Linked DNA regions of Homo sapiens. The main gene of each other region encodes a partner of the protein of the gene in region 2 in a complex. Each region holds a gene or a part of one and is shown on either strand. Other genes may lie near its edges. A codon is read from its position in the direction of its gene.

Region 1 (7,617 bases), on a different chromosome or scaffold from region 2:
TACAAAAAATTAGCTGGGCATGGTGGGATGGGGGGTGCCTGTAATCCCAGCTACTAGGGAGGCTGAAGCAGGAGACTCGCTTGAACCCGGGCACTGGAGGTTGCAGTGAGCCAAGACTGTGCCATTGCACTCCAGCCTGGACAGCAAGAGTGAAACTCCATCTCAAAAAATAAAAAAATTTAAAAAAACAAGTGTTGGCAAGGATGTAGAGAAATTGGAACCTTTGTGCTTTGCTAGTGGGAATGTAAAGTAGTGCAGCTGCTGTGGAAAATCATTAGTTTCTGAAAGTTAAATATATAGTTACCATGTGACTCAACACTCTGCCTGCAGACCTCCGCCTCCCAGGTTCAAGCGATTCTCCTGCGTCAGCCTGCCAAGTAGCTGGGATTACAGGCACCCGCCACCATGCCCAGCTAATTTTTTGTATTTTTAGTAGATATGGGGTTTCACCATGTTGGCCAGGCTGGTCTCGAACTCCTGACCTCAGATGATCTACCTGCCTCAGCCTCCCAAAGTGCTGGGATTATAGGCGTGAGCTACTACGCCCGGCCTTATGTTACATATATTTTAACTAAAAAAAGCTTTCATGAAGCTTTTCTAAATTAAATAATGGAGAGAGAGATTGTAATAAATTGAGGTCAAATGTGCTCAATTAAAATGAAAACAAATGACAGGCCGGCCACAGTGGCTCATGCCTGTAATCCTAGCACTTTGGGAAGTGGAAAGATTGCTTCAGGCTAGGAGTTCAAGACTGCAGTAAGCTATGATCACTGTACTACACTACAGCCTGGGCAACAGAGTGAATGTGTCTCTATTTTAAAATATATATAATATTTATATATAAATACACGTATTTTATACATACATACTTTATATGTAAATATATAAATAATATTTTAAAAATATTTGTGTATATATATTATGTGTGTGTATATATATGCATAAATAAAACATACATATACACATAAATAAAGCAAAAACCAGACAAACCCCAATTCCAATTCAAGCCAATTTTGTATAAATATAAATTACACTTTTTTTTTTTTTTTTTTTACTGAGACAGGGTCTCACCATCGCCCAGGCTGGAATGCAGTAGTGTGATCATAACTTACTGCAACCTCAAATTCCTGGGCTCACGTGATACTCCTGCCTCAGCTTCCTGGGCAGCTGGAACTACAGGCAAGCACCACCACGCCCAGCTAATTTTTCTAATTTTTTGTAGAGACAGGGTTTCACTATGTTGCCCAGGCTGGTCTTGAACTCAAGGCCTCAAGTGATCCTCCCACCCTGGCCTCTCAAATTGCTAGGATTACAGGTATAAGGCATCACACCTGACCAAATTACATTGTCTTCATTTATGTAGATCAATCTAAAAAAGATTTGACTGAAACTGGACTGCCCATTGCTATGACTTACGGGAAATGGGCAACAACTCAATACCATGATGAAGTCCTGAAGTGAAGCAGGATTAGAAGGAACCATAATCAACACTGCTGTGGTGTCCTAGGTCAGCAAGACACCTCCAAGTCTTGAGCAGGGAACTGGGGAGAACTGATGCTCTTACCTTGTTAATAATTCCTCCGTTTTCAACAACTCCTTCAGCACCAACTATGACAAGATCTGCTTTCTCCATGATGTAGCTAAGGGGAAAAAAAGCTTTTCATGCTTTATTTTCTTGGCTCTAACGAGTAGCATCATCATCTGCAAAGATCAATATTCCATTTCTATCAAGGTAAGTTCCTCCCATAACTACCTGTTTTTTTTAAAGCGCACTTAACACGCGATAGACCCCTGGCATTGTTACCAGGGGTGTTTTCTGGTCATGACCCTACAATGAGACATACACTTCACACTGCCGCCCGGCGCATGCACACGTACATATGTGTGTAAGTGAAGCAAGAATGTCCTGACACAGCAGTCTTCCTTCCAAGTGTGGTATCCTCTACTTTCTTTTCTACTTCAGCACAAACCAAACAAAATTTTAAAATCTGATGAGATCTGAAGTTGGACAAAAGTGTTATGCAGTTTTAAAAATCTTTCTTTTTTTTTTTGAGACCAGATCTCACTCTGTTGCCCAGGCTAGAGTGCAGTGGCATGATCTCAGCCCAAACCTCTACCTCTTAGGCTCAAGCGATCCTCCCATTTCAGCCTCCCAGGTAGCTGGGACCACAGCATATGCCACCATGCCCTAGAGATGGGGTTTCGCCATATTGCCCAGGCTGGTCTCCAACTCCTGAACTCTAGCGATCCACCTGCCTCAGGTATGAGCCACTGTGCCCAACCTTAAGAATCTTTCTGGTAGGATGAAGGCCAATTTAGTCTTTAAAATGAGCAATTAGTAGAATTCCTCAAAATCCTTACTTTTGAACACATTCCTAATTTCCTTAATCATCTATCTTGTTTTCATTCCAAGAGATCACTACTCTTGTTTTTTCTTGGGAAATACACTGACAATCCCAGGAACATGTGACTTGGCTTTGCGACACAAGCTGCATCTTCTAGGTGAGACAAAGCATCCCAGTATGCCACTGAGGACAGCCAGGTCTTCACAGAAATACAGAGCCCTGATTACCCTCTGCTGATCCCAACTGACCTTTGTACTTTGCTCTTAAAATGCATTTGCACTGGCTGGGCGTGGTGGCTCACGCCTGTAATCCCAGCACTTTGGGAGGCCAAGGCGGGCAGATCACCTGAGTTCAGGAGTTCGAGACCAGCCTGGCCAACATGGTGAAACCCCATCTCTACTAAAAATATAAAAGAATTAACGTGGCATGGTGGCATGCGCCGGTAATCCCAGCTACTTAGGAGGCTGAGGCAGGAGAATCGCTTGAACCTGGGAGGTGGAGATTGCAGTGAACCAAGATCATGCCATTGCACTCCAGCCTGGGCAACAGGGCAAGACTCCATCTCAAAAAAACAAAAAACAAACAAACAAAAACAACAACAACAACAAACTCAACACTTACAGCCATAAAGCTATAGACACAACTCCCACTCTCCCCAACATCCTACAGCTCTGTCTTCTTTGTATGCTATCACAACCTCATAACAAGCTTGCTGGTTTAGGGCAGCTATTAATTAAGAAGTAGGACGCTACCTGGTGTGGCTTTATGAACGGGACTCAAACTTTCAATCTGAAAACTTGCTGTAAGCCAGCATGGGGTGGGGGAGGTGATTATGGCTGGGGAAGATGGGCACTCACCCGACAGCAGCATCTAGCACCACAGTGACAGGGACGTTGAGGTGGCAGAGGGCTTTGGCCATTTTCTTACTGAAGATGACATTTTGAGAACGTTAGAGAAAGTACAAGACAGTACCACAGTGATGTATGTCACCTAATGTGGACAGTGGATGTTTGCTTGAAACTCACATTAATACTAATGGGTTAAGGGGCAGATCCCAATACTTTGGACTAAGGAAACAAGAATTTGAGTTCTTTAGAAAGAAGTATTTTTGGAAAACTATACTCTTAGACTCTGGGTAAGAGATGTAAATTCAGGAAAAAAGGAGGAAGTTTTGCTTTGATTATCGTCTAGAGAGAGGGAGATATAAGTTACCTATTCCTTGATAAAAATCTTCATCAATACAATCTCTGCTCTTCCACGGAGTTAACTACTTAAGTGAAACCCCTAGATCATATACTGCGGCCTGCTGCAAATTCAGTGATTTTTCTTCCAAAGGCAGGAAAAGGTACAATGAAAGGCAGTGCTGACTGCTGGCAAGCTGGGGGCACATTCTGGTTCTGATCCTGTTGGACTGTAATCCGCAGTTTGCTCTGTAAAATTATGGCTGGGCACATAACTGAACAGAAAGGTACTTGCCCTGACAAATCAGGCTGTGACTCTGTGACGTATACACTAAATCGCTTCTTGGCCGCCACGGCTGCTTCCAGGACTCTCAGGACCACTCTGGAGTAGGCGTGAGTCAATATTGTCTGTGGACCGAGAAAGCTTTGTCAAAGGGGCAGGCTCCTTGCTGCTCACTCACACCCTCTGCACTGCGGCACGTGTTCCCGACACCCTAAGCATCTCTGTACACTTTCTCACAAATCAACCACAACCAGAAAGGAGACCTGATGGTACAGTTTCCATCCCATGTGCAAGCTAAAAAAGTTTCTGCCAGGTCTCACATCCTGTAGCAGGTGCAGAAATGGAACTCCCACACAGTGTTACCCAAAGGATACAAAAGCCTGGATAGCTGAAGGCTCCATGAGGTTCCCTTGGGTTGGTTTTCCTATTTCTAAGACATGGTTTGCACACGCAGGCCTACAGGAACCAAGTAGGTAGCAGAAGTCACTGCAGCAGGTTGGGTGGGGCCAGCAGCAAAGCGAAAGGCTACAGAAGGCTGGGTGTGGTGGCTCACGCCTGTAATCCCAGCATTTTGGGAGGCCAAGGTGAGAGGACTGCCTGAGCCCAGGAGTTCAAAACCAGTCTGGGCAACTTGGCAAGACCTCATCTCTACAAAAAATAACAACAAAAAAAATTAGCTGGATGCAGTGGCATGTGCCTATAGTCCCAGCTACTTGGGAGGCCGAGGTGGGAGGATCACTTGAGCCTGGGAGGTTGAGGCTGCAGTGAGCCATAATCATGCCAGTGCACTCTAGTCTGGGCAAGAGAGTGAGACTCTGTCTCAAAAAGAAAAGGCTAAGGAGGGCCAGGACTCCTCAGCCCCAGCTGGCGTCATGTGGCCCCAAGATTGCCAGACCAGGTGATGTTTCAAAAATCCAATTTTGAAATGATGGCTAACTAATTTTTTTGAATTTATAAACACTGTTTGGGGTAATCACAACCTATCTGTGGCGTGGATGCAATGTGTAGACACTTAGACATAATCTGTTTTCTTTTCTTTCTTGAGCCAAGGTCTTGCTCTGATGCCTAGGCTGGAGTGCAGTGCAGTGTTCATGGCTCACTGTAGCCTCGACATCCTGGGCTCAAACGATCCTCCCACCTCAGCCACCCCAGTAGCTGGGACTACAGATGTGCGCCACTGTGACTAGCTAATTTATTTTATTTTTTGTAGAGACAGGGCCTCTCTCCCTATGTTGCTCAGGCTAGTGTTGAATTCCTGGCCTCAAGGGAACCTCCGGCTAGGATTATACACATAAGCCACCACAGTAGGCCCATAACCTCTTTTTTTTTTTTTTTTTTTTTTTTTGGTGAGACAGGATCTCACTCCAATTGCCCAGGCTGAAGTGCAGTGGTATGATCTCAGCTCACTGCAGCCTCAACTTCCTGGGTTCAGGTGATTCTCCCACCTGAGCCTCCCAAGTAGCTGGGACCACAGGAGTGTGCCACCACGCCTGGCTAACTTTTTGTATTTTTAGTAGAGATGAAGTTTTGCCATGTTGCCCGGGCTGGTCTTGAACTCCTGGACTCAAGCAATCTGCGTGTCTTGGCTTTCCAAAGTGCTGGGATTACAGGCATGAGCCACCATGCCCAGCCTCCATAACCTCTTTTCTATGGAAGAGTGCAGAAGACAGAATAAGACAAGGGGGCAGAACCAGCTCTCTAGCTCCTTTCTGGGTCTCACCTGAGAACCCGTTAGGAAGGCAGGTTCGTGGACCCTAGCCCAAACCCACTGAATCCCGATCTGCATTTAATAAGACCCCAGCTGACTCCTCTGCATGTGCAAATCTGAGCAGCTCTGCTATAAATTTTGTCTAAATCAGTCCTGAGTAGGTGACTGCAGGTAAAGTACATACATACCACACTACACTAGAGCAAACGAAACCCGCACAATACTGACGGCACAGCAGGTCTGTGGAAGGAGAAGGCCCCAGCGAGAGGAAGTCACAACCTTGCCTCCACTTGCCCAAAAAAGGCTTCGTTTGCAACTGGCTTTTCTACAAGTTTCACTCACATCTATTATGCCATTTATTTAATAACATACTTCAAAGGTTGGGAAGGGGCTAATAAAATGGAGGACAAGATTTAAGAGTCAAAATGCAAGTAAATGATTTTATGATCAGGGGAGGCCTAGGTGGCAAAAGGACGTATGCTGGTGGGAGGGGCATTATGATAGTTTCATTACACCTTTACTGGAAGATGGTTCAACTTGCACCTCCTGTCTTTCCTCACTTATAAACACTGCGTGGCTTTACATCTCTGTAATAGCATCTAAAATGAAGTTAAAAAGAAAATTTCCCTCAATTTCCCTCTATTGCTAACCTTCACTAAGAAAGTCCTCAGTGTTAACCAGTGACAAGAGCTGTTCTGTTAATTCAGATTTACTACACATACAATCATAAAAATACTTCTTTAGTAAAACACTGTATTAAATCAAGAATCAGGGCCAGGTGCGGTGGCTCACGCCTGTAATCCCAGCACTTTGGGAGGCCGAAGCGGGTGGATCACAAGGTCAGGAGATCGAGACCATCCTGGCTAACACAGTGAAACCCCGTCTCTACTAAAAATAAAAAAAATTAGCTGGGCTTGCTGGTGGGCACCTGTAGTCCCAGCTACTCGGGAGGCTGAGGCAGGAGAATGGTGTGAACCCAGGAGGCGGAGCTTGCAGTGAGCTGAGATCGCGCCACTGCACTCCAGCCTGGGTGACAGAGCAAGACTCCGTCTCAAAATAAATAAATAAATAAATAAAATAAATCAAGAATCACACGTGCTGTCCCACTGTCCCTCTCTGCCTGTTTACAATGACAACCATCTCTAATAACAAGACCTACATTCATGCAGCACTTACTAAGTGCCAGGCACAATACCAAGCCCTCACACCCCTTGCCCCTTACATGTCTTGCCTCATTTAATCCTCACAACAACCCAAGGAGGTAGGTACTATTGTCATCCTTATTTAACAGATGAGAAAGCTGCACAGACAGGTTAAGTTACTTGTTCAAGTCTCCACAGCAAGTGAGTGGCAGAGCCCGGATTTTACCCCAGGCAGTCGGACTCGAAACCGTTGCTCCTCCTTACCACCATGATGATTATCCACTCACCGCTCCATCTTTGATGAAAGTATGGCACAGATCTGCAATTTTGTTTCTTGACAGTGATATTCTCCTGAGAAAAAGTTCTCCCCGCTCAATCATGATCTTTTTACATTTGGAGTAATCCTAGGAAGAAAAGAGCAAACTGAGGGGACAGGGAAGATCCAGTTAATGCTGAGAATGTCTGTCACTAAACAGAGAAGTGGAAAGGTAACCCCAGGGAGAACAGGCACTTACGGAGTATTCCAGGGAGGCAAGACTGATGAAGCGGAGGAAGAGCTCCCCGCCAGAGGACACTGCCACAGAGGAGTCCACACCACACAGGGTTTCTATGGCACTGGTGAGATTCGCCCTCAGACCCTGGATTGTCTCCCCTGGAATGATCCAACAAGGAATGTGATGTTCACATTAGGGCCACAGCCCCGACCTGTATCTTCAATTCATTCATTCATTCAGTGAATATTTACTAGGTACATACTATATACCAGGCACTATTCTAGATGCTAGGGATACATCAGTGAACAAGACAGGTAGGGTTCTGCTGTGATGGAGTTTTGATTGTAATAGAGGAAGCGGATAGTAAACAAGCACACATAGAAATAAAGCTGGGTGGCTGGGCATGGTGGCTCACGCCTGTAATCTCAGCACTTTGGGAGGCTGAGGCATGGAAAGACATTAAG
Region 2 (7,661 bases):
CAGTGAGCTGTGATCATGCCACTGCACTGCAGCCTGGACAACAGAGCAAGACTCGGTCTCAAAAAAACAAGTGTTTGGGTAATAAAATTCAACAATAAGGTTGTATAACCTAGACACAGTATAACCTAGACACAGTGATTTAAGGGGATATAATTTCATATGACTGGTGTTTTAAAATCGCATGTACTAATAAACTTTTTTGGCCAGGTGCAGTGGCTCACACCTGTAATACCAACACTTTGGGAGGCCGAGGCAGGTGGATAACTTGAGGTCAGGAGTTCGAGACCACCCTGGCCAACATAGTGAAACCCCATCTCTACCAAAAAATACAAAAATTAGCTGGGTATGGTGCTGCATCCCTGTGGTCCCAGCTACTCAGGAGTCTGAGGCACAAAAATCACTTGAACCTGGCAGGCAGAGGTTGCAGTGAGCCAAGATCGGGTCACTGCACTCCAGCCTGGGCAACAGAGGGAAAACCTGCCTCAAAAAAACAAAAACAAAAAAAAAAAAACAAAAACAAACAAACACCATTTGGCCAAATTCTTAAATTATACTGGAATCTTTTACCATAGGGCTAAGATCACTAAGACAATTCTATAGCTGAAAGGGACTTTAGACATTAACTTAAAGATTAGAAAAATGAGGCTTAGAAAAGTAAAACAACTTTCTCAAAGTTACTCAGTGAAGAAAAGGCAGGGCAGGGACTTGAACCAGACTTTTGATTCCACTGACTTTCCCAATGCTCAAACTAAGGCTCCAACCTACGTTCACTGTACCCCAAACATGTGCCTCCCCTTAAAGAGAACAATTATCACTGGCTGACTCTGCACTGACTGGTCTCACAAGAGGTCTTATCAAGTGAAGGTCGTTTAGTTTCCAGCCTGAGAAGGAGCTATCCATCTCAATGTGTGCATTTAACATAATGTATTGTTGATAGTAAATACTAGAACTTGGGCTCAAAGAGCTGGATCAAATTTAAGTCAAATTGTAGTACTGCATATTCCAGCCAGTTTATAGTAAAAGGTAAACTGGTTGATAAAATTGAATTTACCATGTTAATTTTATTTTCCTCCTAGGGAATGGCATCTTTGTGAAATGGGCAATTTTAATTCCTGAAACTCTAAGAGCAGCGTGCACACTTACAGCTAATATGTAGCAGAACCTGGATTTAGTGGACTTCTGTTGACTCCAAATTTTTCATGCGTCTTTTACTTCCACTCTACAATTGTTTTTGCTTTCTCTGGTACGAAAGTGGGTGAAAGTAACATCACAGAATAATACTGTTGAATGGAAATGTCTGTGAAACAAGCTGCCAGTATATTTTCTAGCCTATGGCTTTTAAAACTTGCTCCTTTACATGTTTCAGAGCTGCTCAGTCCTACTCAAAAAGTTTGACCTTTAGCTAGGATGATGACTTTTCTTCCAGCTGAATCAAAGACATCTGACTACATGACAAAAAGCCTGCTGCCAGCCATGGGGAAAATATTTAGAGAAGAGATTATTTCCTGCACCTGATTTTCCTCTCAATCAGCAAGCTGAGAGCTTTCAAATAGTAGTTTCACCTTCATGAGCCTATCATTTTCTTACCTAAGCCCAAAGATGTCTATTTTTGCCTCTTAGTCTCAAAGTAAAAGTTTCAAAGTAAAAACAAAAAAGTTATTCTGACTGCTGTCAAAGATAAACCCAGCCAGACATTCGTTAAAGTAGTGAAAACAGATTTTATTCAGTAAACCACTGATAGTAGGGGAAAGGGCTGAGCTCAATTCTCATTTGTGCAGAGGTGACTGGCCATTTTAAAAAAGAGAGTAAGGGAGTGGCAGGGAGCCAGCCGCAAGAAGAGTCAGAGAAGAGAAACCTTAAAGTGTTGGTCAGTGTAAACGCCATACTACCTGGCAATTAGTAAGTTACTATTCTATCCTCTCACACAGACTGGGAGACAAAGCCCCTATCCCTCCTGATGATTACGTTTCAAAGAAATGGCTCTCAAAGATACTTGAAGGGACACTTCAGAGTTGGAAGAGATACATATTAACAATTGTAAGCCTGTTTCGTAAATGCTCTAAAAAGGGAACGAGAGGGGTCTATCAATTAGGTGTTGACTAGAACAAACAGTAAATTCTCCCCCTAGCTTTGAGCTTTTTCAGGCAGGCATTTTAATGGCGGGGGCGGCGGGGGGCGGCCTGGGGTCACCCTAGGGGCAGGCCTTACATTGCTAGAAGATAAACTAGTGTCGATGTCTTTCAGTGCAGAAGTTTTGACTGAGTCATCACGTCCTAGGAGTTCTGCAGTTGTCACTACCTCGGGATAGTCCTCATCTTTATTTCCCCACAACTAGCTTGCTGCCTACTTAGTGCAAACAGCTATTAGAAAGTCAACAGGTGAAGGTAAAAAATTTAAAAACTTCATTTCATTAAGAGCTATTTAGTCACCGGGCAGAAAGAAATCTGGGCTTCAGGTTTGAATATAACTTTTATTTTAAGCATCCTCAGATTCTCTCAAAGGACAGAATGAGGAAAAACAACAAAACACCCCCACAGAGATAGGACCACAATAAAAGGGTCTAAATGTCAGGGTCAAAACTGATTTTCTGCTTCCTCACTGAAAAGAAAAAGGGAAAGCCAGGCGCGGTGGCTCCCATCTATAATCTCAGCCGCCAGGGAGGCTGAGGCCGGAGGATCACTTGAGCCCAGGGGTTTGAGGCTGCTGTGAGCTCTGATCATACCACTGCACCCCAGCCTGGGAGACCCTGTCTCTTATTAAAACAAACAAACAACAAACTAAATAAAAATAAACAGGATGAGGAGGAGAAAGGGAGCAAGTTGTTAGGCACATTTGAGAAAACGTCAAAATTTTCCTTACAAACTAGCCAAACACCTACAGTGATATGCCATTTTCCTGACAAAGAATTCAGGCCCCAAAAGAAAGGCAGCCCACAACTGAGCGTATTCCCAAGCATGAGTTCTTTCAAGAAATATTTTTTTGTGGACCTTCTATGGATTAAGACACTCTTTCATCCTGGAGAGAGCCCACAGTCTAGTGGGAGAGAAAGACACATAAACAAATATCTACTTTACAGCGTGATGACCGGTATTAACACAGGTCTGAACAAGGTGCAGCGGTGAGAGAGCAAAAGCAGTGCCTCAGAAACACAGGGATATCCTCTCACAGCAGGTGACATTTGGCGGGATCTTGGAAAATGAGTAAGGGGATCCAAGATCGAATCCGAGGGCTATGCTAGGGCGATTCGATTCCATCCCCACTTTGGCTTAGGGACCTCTTCTATATCCTCAGTAAACTTCCCTTCTCAGAGCATTTATTAAAACCTCCTTGGCCTTTCCAGACGAATGTCTGGCTACGTAAACTGTGAGCTCTGTAGGGCAGAGGTGGCGACGGTTCAGTTATATAAATCCAGTGCCCGGCTCAATAAGGGTATGTGGAATGGATGAATCCATTAATGAATAAAGACAGCAGACCTCCACAAAAGCCCGCCGGCCGGGCGCCTTTTCCTACCGGCTGGGATCGCTTCGTCCAGCCTGATTCACTCAGGAGGAATGCGCGAAGAGGCCGTCAGGAAGCCTCGCCCTAGACTCAAGAAAAGAACCTGGGAAAAGCTCAGGATCCTCCCAGGAAACAAGGACCCTCACTGTGGCCCAGGGTCTGAAGGGACCGCGCTCCGGGTTCCTAAACCTGTGAAAGCGGCTTATCCCATTCCTTTACTTACATTCGCGAGGGAAAGATTTCAATTCGGTCTTTGCCCGACATTCTGACGATAACTTTTCGGCTCGGGTCCCCGGCCGGGCAACCGAGGCTGCAATAGCTCCAGAACTGGCCTCCACAGTGTCTTCCTCTACGGGAGTCAGCTGGTTGTGTCACTTGACCCCTCTTGTTGCTAAGAGGCAGCAGGGACACCCATTTTCACTTCCGCTTCCGGTTGTCACAGGCGACGAAGGGGGAGGACAGAACAGAGGCGTTGCCCGGATGTCGAGGCGCGCGCACCGCGGAACCACCCCTCAATTCCGGTTCGCCTCCCAACCCCTCCCCATCCAGCTTCCCTGCGGCTGCGCAATACGCGGCACGCGCCAGGCCAAAGACTAGGAGCGAAGCGTGCACGCCTTGTCTTTCTCCACCTTTCGTCTTTGGTCACAGCGCCATCTCATGGTTAGCTGAAACTTTGAAAGAGGATTCATTCTTCAGAGGCAAGGAATCGGAGTCCTATGTCTTTCTCGCGCCTTGAAGGTTACTTAGCTAAAGCTAAGATAGCGAGAAACAGTACTTTTCAGGTCCTTCCATGATCTACATTCGTCCTTGTTCTCGGAGGACCCAGACTCTATGGTTAATGATGAAGAGGGGCCTCTATTCGTTCAGCGCTTGCGCATGCGAGGAGGTTCCGCATGCGCGGTGGAGTGAGCGAAGCGCACGCTGAGGAGGATCGGCGGCCGGTGAGGGGGAAGCAAGTCTGGTCTCTGTGATTGAAGAAGTCGGCTCTGGGCTCCAGTGCGGGAATCACACACATACCTCAGGTGACTAATCCCAAGCTCGGTTTCTCCAGGAACTCACTTTGGTTTGTGTCCAGTGACATGGGTGTTCGAGAGCGGGTAGGCCCCGGGCTAATACCTCCCTTTCCCGTCCCTGCGCGGGAAGTGGCTGGACAGCACCGCCACCACCCGCGCTGTCGTGGGCCTCCTCGCCGGCTCCGTGTAGGTCATCCTGTGTTCCAGAGGCATCGTTGTTCGAGCAGAGGAATCTCGTGAAGGAAAGTGGGCCGAGTGGATTGTACAGCCTCTACAATATGCCGAAAGTGAGAATGCCATGACGATGGGGCGGTCTCAGGAGAACGCTGTGACACCGTAACTCTTAACCCCGGCTCAGGACGCTGAGCACTTTGCTTTTTCCAGGCTTGAGAATTCCATCTTTTCTTCCGCCCCAACAGCTCTACCAAAAATTTCCCCTGCGTCTCAGTGGAAACCAAACTGGCCTCTTACCTGAGAAACCTGTGGGACGGGCACCGTGTTGGAAAGAGCGGGGTCCGAGTAGTTTTTCATCTGATAATTGAATGAGTCACCCCTTGAACCAAAACTAAATGAGACTTGAGTTTATTACTGTTACTATCAGTTTGTCGTATTTTGGCGACAATGAGAATAGAACTGTGTTAAGCATATGTTAGGTTAACTATGTTAGTTAAGCATAACTAAAACCTAAGATAAGGATATATTTTCGGGTTAAATACACAGTCATGCTGAGGTCTCTTTATCCTCAAAACTTAGGCTTTTTAAATTTTTATTAAGCAAAAAACATGGTTTCTTCGAGAAAAAGTATAGCAGAGAAGTCTTTATTTCCCCTCAATTGAGTTGTTATTCAAGGAACAATCTCTGTCAATAGTTTGGGGGTGACTTGTACAGAACTTTGCTACCTATTCTTAGTTCATCTGGTGCCAAAAGATGTAGTTGTCTCATGCACAGTAATGTTTGTAGAGATTCGGTGATAACTTTCTTTTTCAACTATAATGATGAAATAAAAGCTTTACTTATGTAGCACTCCTATACCAAGAACTAGCATTCAGAGAGCATTCCTAATACGTGTTAGATCCAAATTAGAATTATCACGAGAGTTGTCCCCATCACATAATATATTTTGGAAAGGAATGTGAACTTCTATATCCATTATAGCAGTTTGACCATGCACTGTTTTGAGAAAGAAGTCCTACCTACCATTTGTCATGCAAAATAACTGACTATGCAGGGTATTTGAAATTAGCCTGGAGTTTGGTTGATATATTTTGAAAGGTGGCTGATACTTTTTACATCAGAACACATAAGAGTATTATAGCATGTTGTGATATTGAGGTTCTGTGGGTTAAAGACATTCTGGATTTGATGTCGGATTACTTGAGTTTAGCTCCTACGCTAGTACTTATTAAGCATTTGTTCTTAAGGAAGTATTATAATTTAGTATTTCTGTTCCACCTTTCCTGTTCATTGCTTCACTGTGCCCTTTCATAGTACTTTGTATTGTAATTATTTGCTTGCTAGTTTGTTTCCCACTCTATACTTAATTACTTAGGTAAGAGTCTTTTTTTTTTTTCTTTTTTCTTTTTTCTTTTTTTTTTTGAGACAGAGTCTCTGTTGCCCAGGCTGGAGTGTAGTGGCACGATCTCAGCTCACTGTAGCCTCTGCCCCTGGGTTCAAGGGATTCTCCTGCCTCAGCCACTATAGTAGTGGGATTACAGGTGCCTGCCACCACACCCAGCTAATTTTGGTATTTTTAGTAGAAATGGGGTTTCACCATGTTGACCAGGCTGGCCTCGAACTCCTGGTTTCAAGTGATCCACCCGCCTCGGCCTCCCAAAGTGCTGGGATTACAGGTGTGAGCCACTGCGCCTGGCCTGGTAAGAGTCTTTCTTGTTGTATCATTAGTGCTTAGTACATAGTAGCTACTGAAAAAAAAATTAACAAATTATTATATTACAAAATGGAAATACCTTCTTTTTCTTTCAATATTTTATGTTTGACTAGCACATAATGGTTTTCAAAATGTTTTTACGTATACATGTGATACCCTCAGTAAACCTGTGATGTACATGGCACAGATGAGAAACTACAGTTCAAAGGATGTTATCTTTCCCAAGCAGCCACTTCTAGTAAGTAGCAGAGCAAGGACTGGAACACAAGGCTAGAGTTGTTCCCCGAGTTTACTATGTTAATTGCCTGATTTGACACTTCTTGAGGACCAAATAAAATAAGAATGCTGTGAAAAAGATAAAGAGGTGAAGTCACCTAGTGTGACTTCGATATTGCGGAATGATTTTTTTAAGTTAAAAAAAAAATTTAAGTTATTAGCATTTCATTAGGCAATATGTTCAAAAATTGTCAACCAATATGCAGGTTTTTGTGGTATGGATTCTTTTTGTACTTAACTACTATCTATCTTTACTATGAATAACATACCATCAACAGTATTCCTTTACTTACCCTTTATGTTGCAAAGAGACTTGTGCCTCCTGAAGAAATAGTATTCATAGTCATATCCCTTCAGGATTCTCTTACATGATTGCCCATGTTTTTTAACCATCAAATTAAGCCTTGCTTCCCCTAAAAGCATCACCTTTACTGTTTGGAGAAGCTTGGTAAGTAAATGTGGTTTTCACTGGTCAAATGTCTTGCAACTGTTCCATACATTTCTGTAACATAGTTTATTTTTATGCCCAATTTGAAACTTTTTAGCTCTCAAATTTGAGAGCTTTACATACACATATTCAACAACAGTTTCCCCACCCCCACCCTCGAAAAGCCCTGTTTAAAAACGAAACAAACAGTCAGCTGTTTCTTGGTGGGTAAGGCCATTGAATGTCTACTTCTCTTTATTTGCTAAATCCCTATTTTGTAGGGATTTTGTATTCCCTACAAAGAAATACATCTCTGCTACTGTCATTAATATGCTGCTCTTTGTTGTCAAACAGATGAGTACTAATAGTTTGCACTTATTGGTGTTATGTACTCTGGCACTGAATATATATTAATGTTGCTTTTTAAGTAAAATGTTTCTAATTATAATATATTTATGAATAGTTTTGAGAGAATATAGTCTTACTGATAAGAGGACAGACTCTGGATCCAGACTTCATGGATTCAAATCCTGACTCATCACCTGTTAGCAGTATGTGA

The links. Proteins that work in one complex are often made in the same cells at the same time.
Region 1: the proteins of EIF2S1 (region 2) and EIF2B1 are in contact, whole or in part, in a cryo-EM structure (PDB 6K72), measured with the Homo sapiens proteins. Residues at the interface, in NP_004085.1 of Homo sapiens: Ala28, Glu29, Met30, Tyr33, Gly44, Met45, Leu47, Leu48, Arg75, Lys80, Tyr82, Ile83, Asp84, Arg88; in NP_001405.1 of Homo sapiens: Gly39, Thr41 (codon at 7,306), Ile42 (codon at 7,303), Gln43 (codon at 7,300), Gly44 (codon at 7,297), Leu45 (codon at 7,294), Arg46 (codon at 7,291), Ala47 (codon at 7,288), Asn48 (codon at 7,285), Glu70 (codon at 7,219), Arg74 (codon at 7,207), Ser77 (codon at 7,198), Ser80 (codon at 7,189), Leu81 (codon at 7,186), Glu82 (codon at 7,183), Tyr83 (codon at 7,180), Ser84 (codon at 7,177), Asp85 (codon at 7,063), Tyr86 (codon at 7,060), Cys89 (codon at 7,051), Leu305.

Annotation. Positions count from the first base shown.
Region 1 is NC_000012.12:123,623,223-123,630,839, forward strand, and holds part of EIF2B1 (translation initiation factor eIF2B subunit alpha), read right to left. Parts: intron 7,312-7,617; coding exon 7,175-7,311; intron 7,064-7,174; coding exon 6,947-7,063; intron 3,935-6,946; coding exon 3,822-3,934; intron 3,272-3,821; coding exon 3,203-3,271; intron 1,641-3,202; coding exon 1,565-1,640; intron 1-1,564.
Region 2 is NC_000014.9:67,355,937-67,363,597, forward strand, and holds the start of EIF2S1 (eukaryotic translation initiation factor 2 subunit 1), read left to right. Parts: upstream 1-4,391; 5' UTR 4,392-4,520; intron 4,521-7,661. Other genes in the region: ATP6V1D (V-type proton ATPase subunit D), read right to left, coding at 3,722-3,762. UniProt on the Homo sapiens protein: Member of the eIF2 complex that functions in the early steps of protein synthesis by forming a ternary complex with GTP and initiator tRNA. This complex binds to a 40S ribosomal subunit, followed by mRNA binding to form a 43S pre-initiation complex (43S PIC).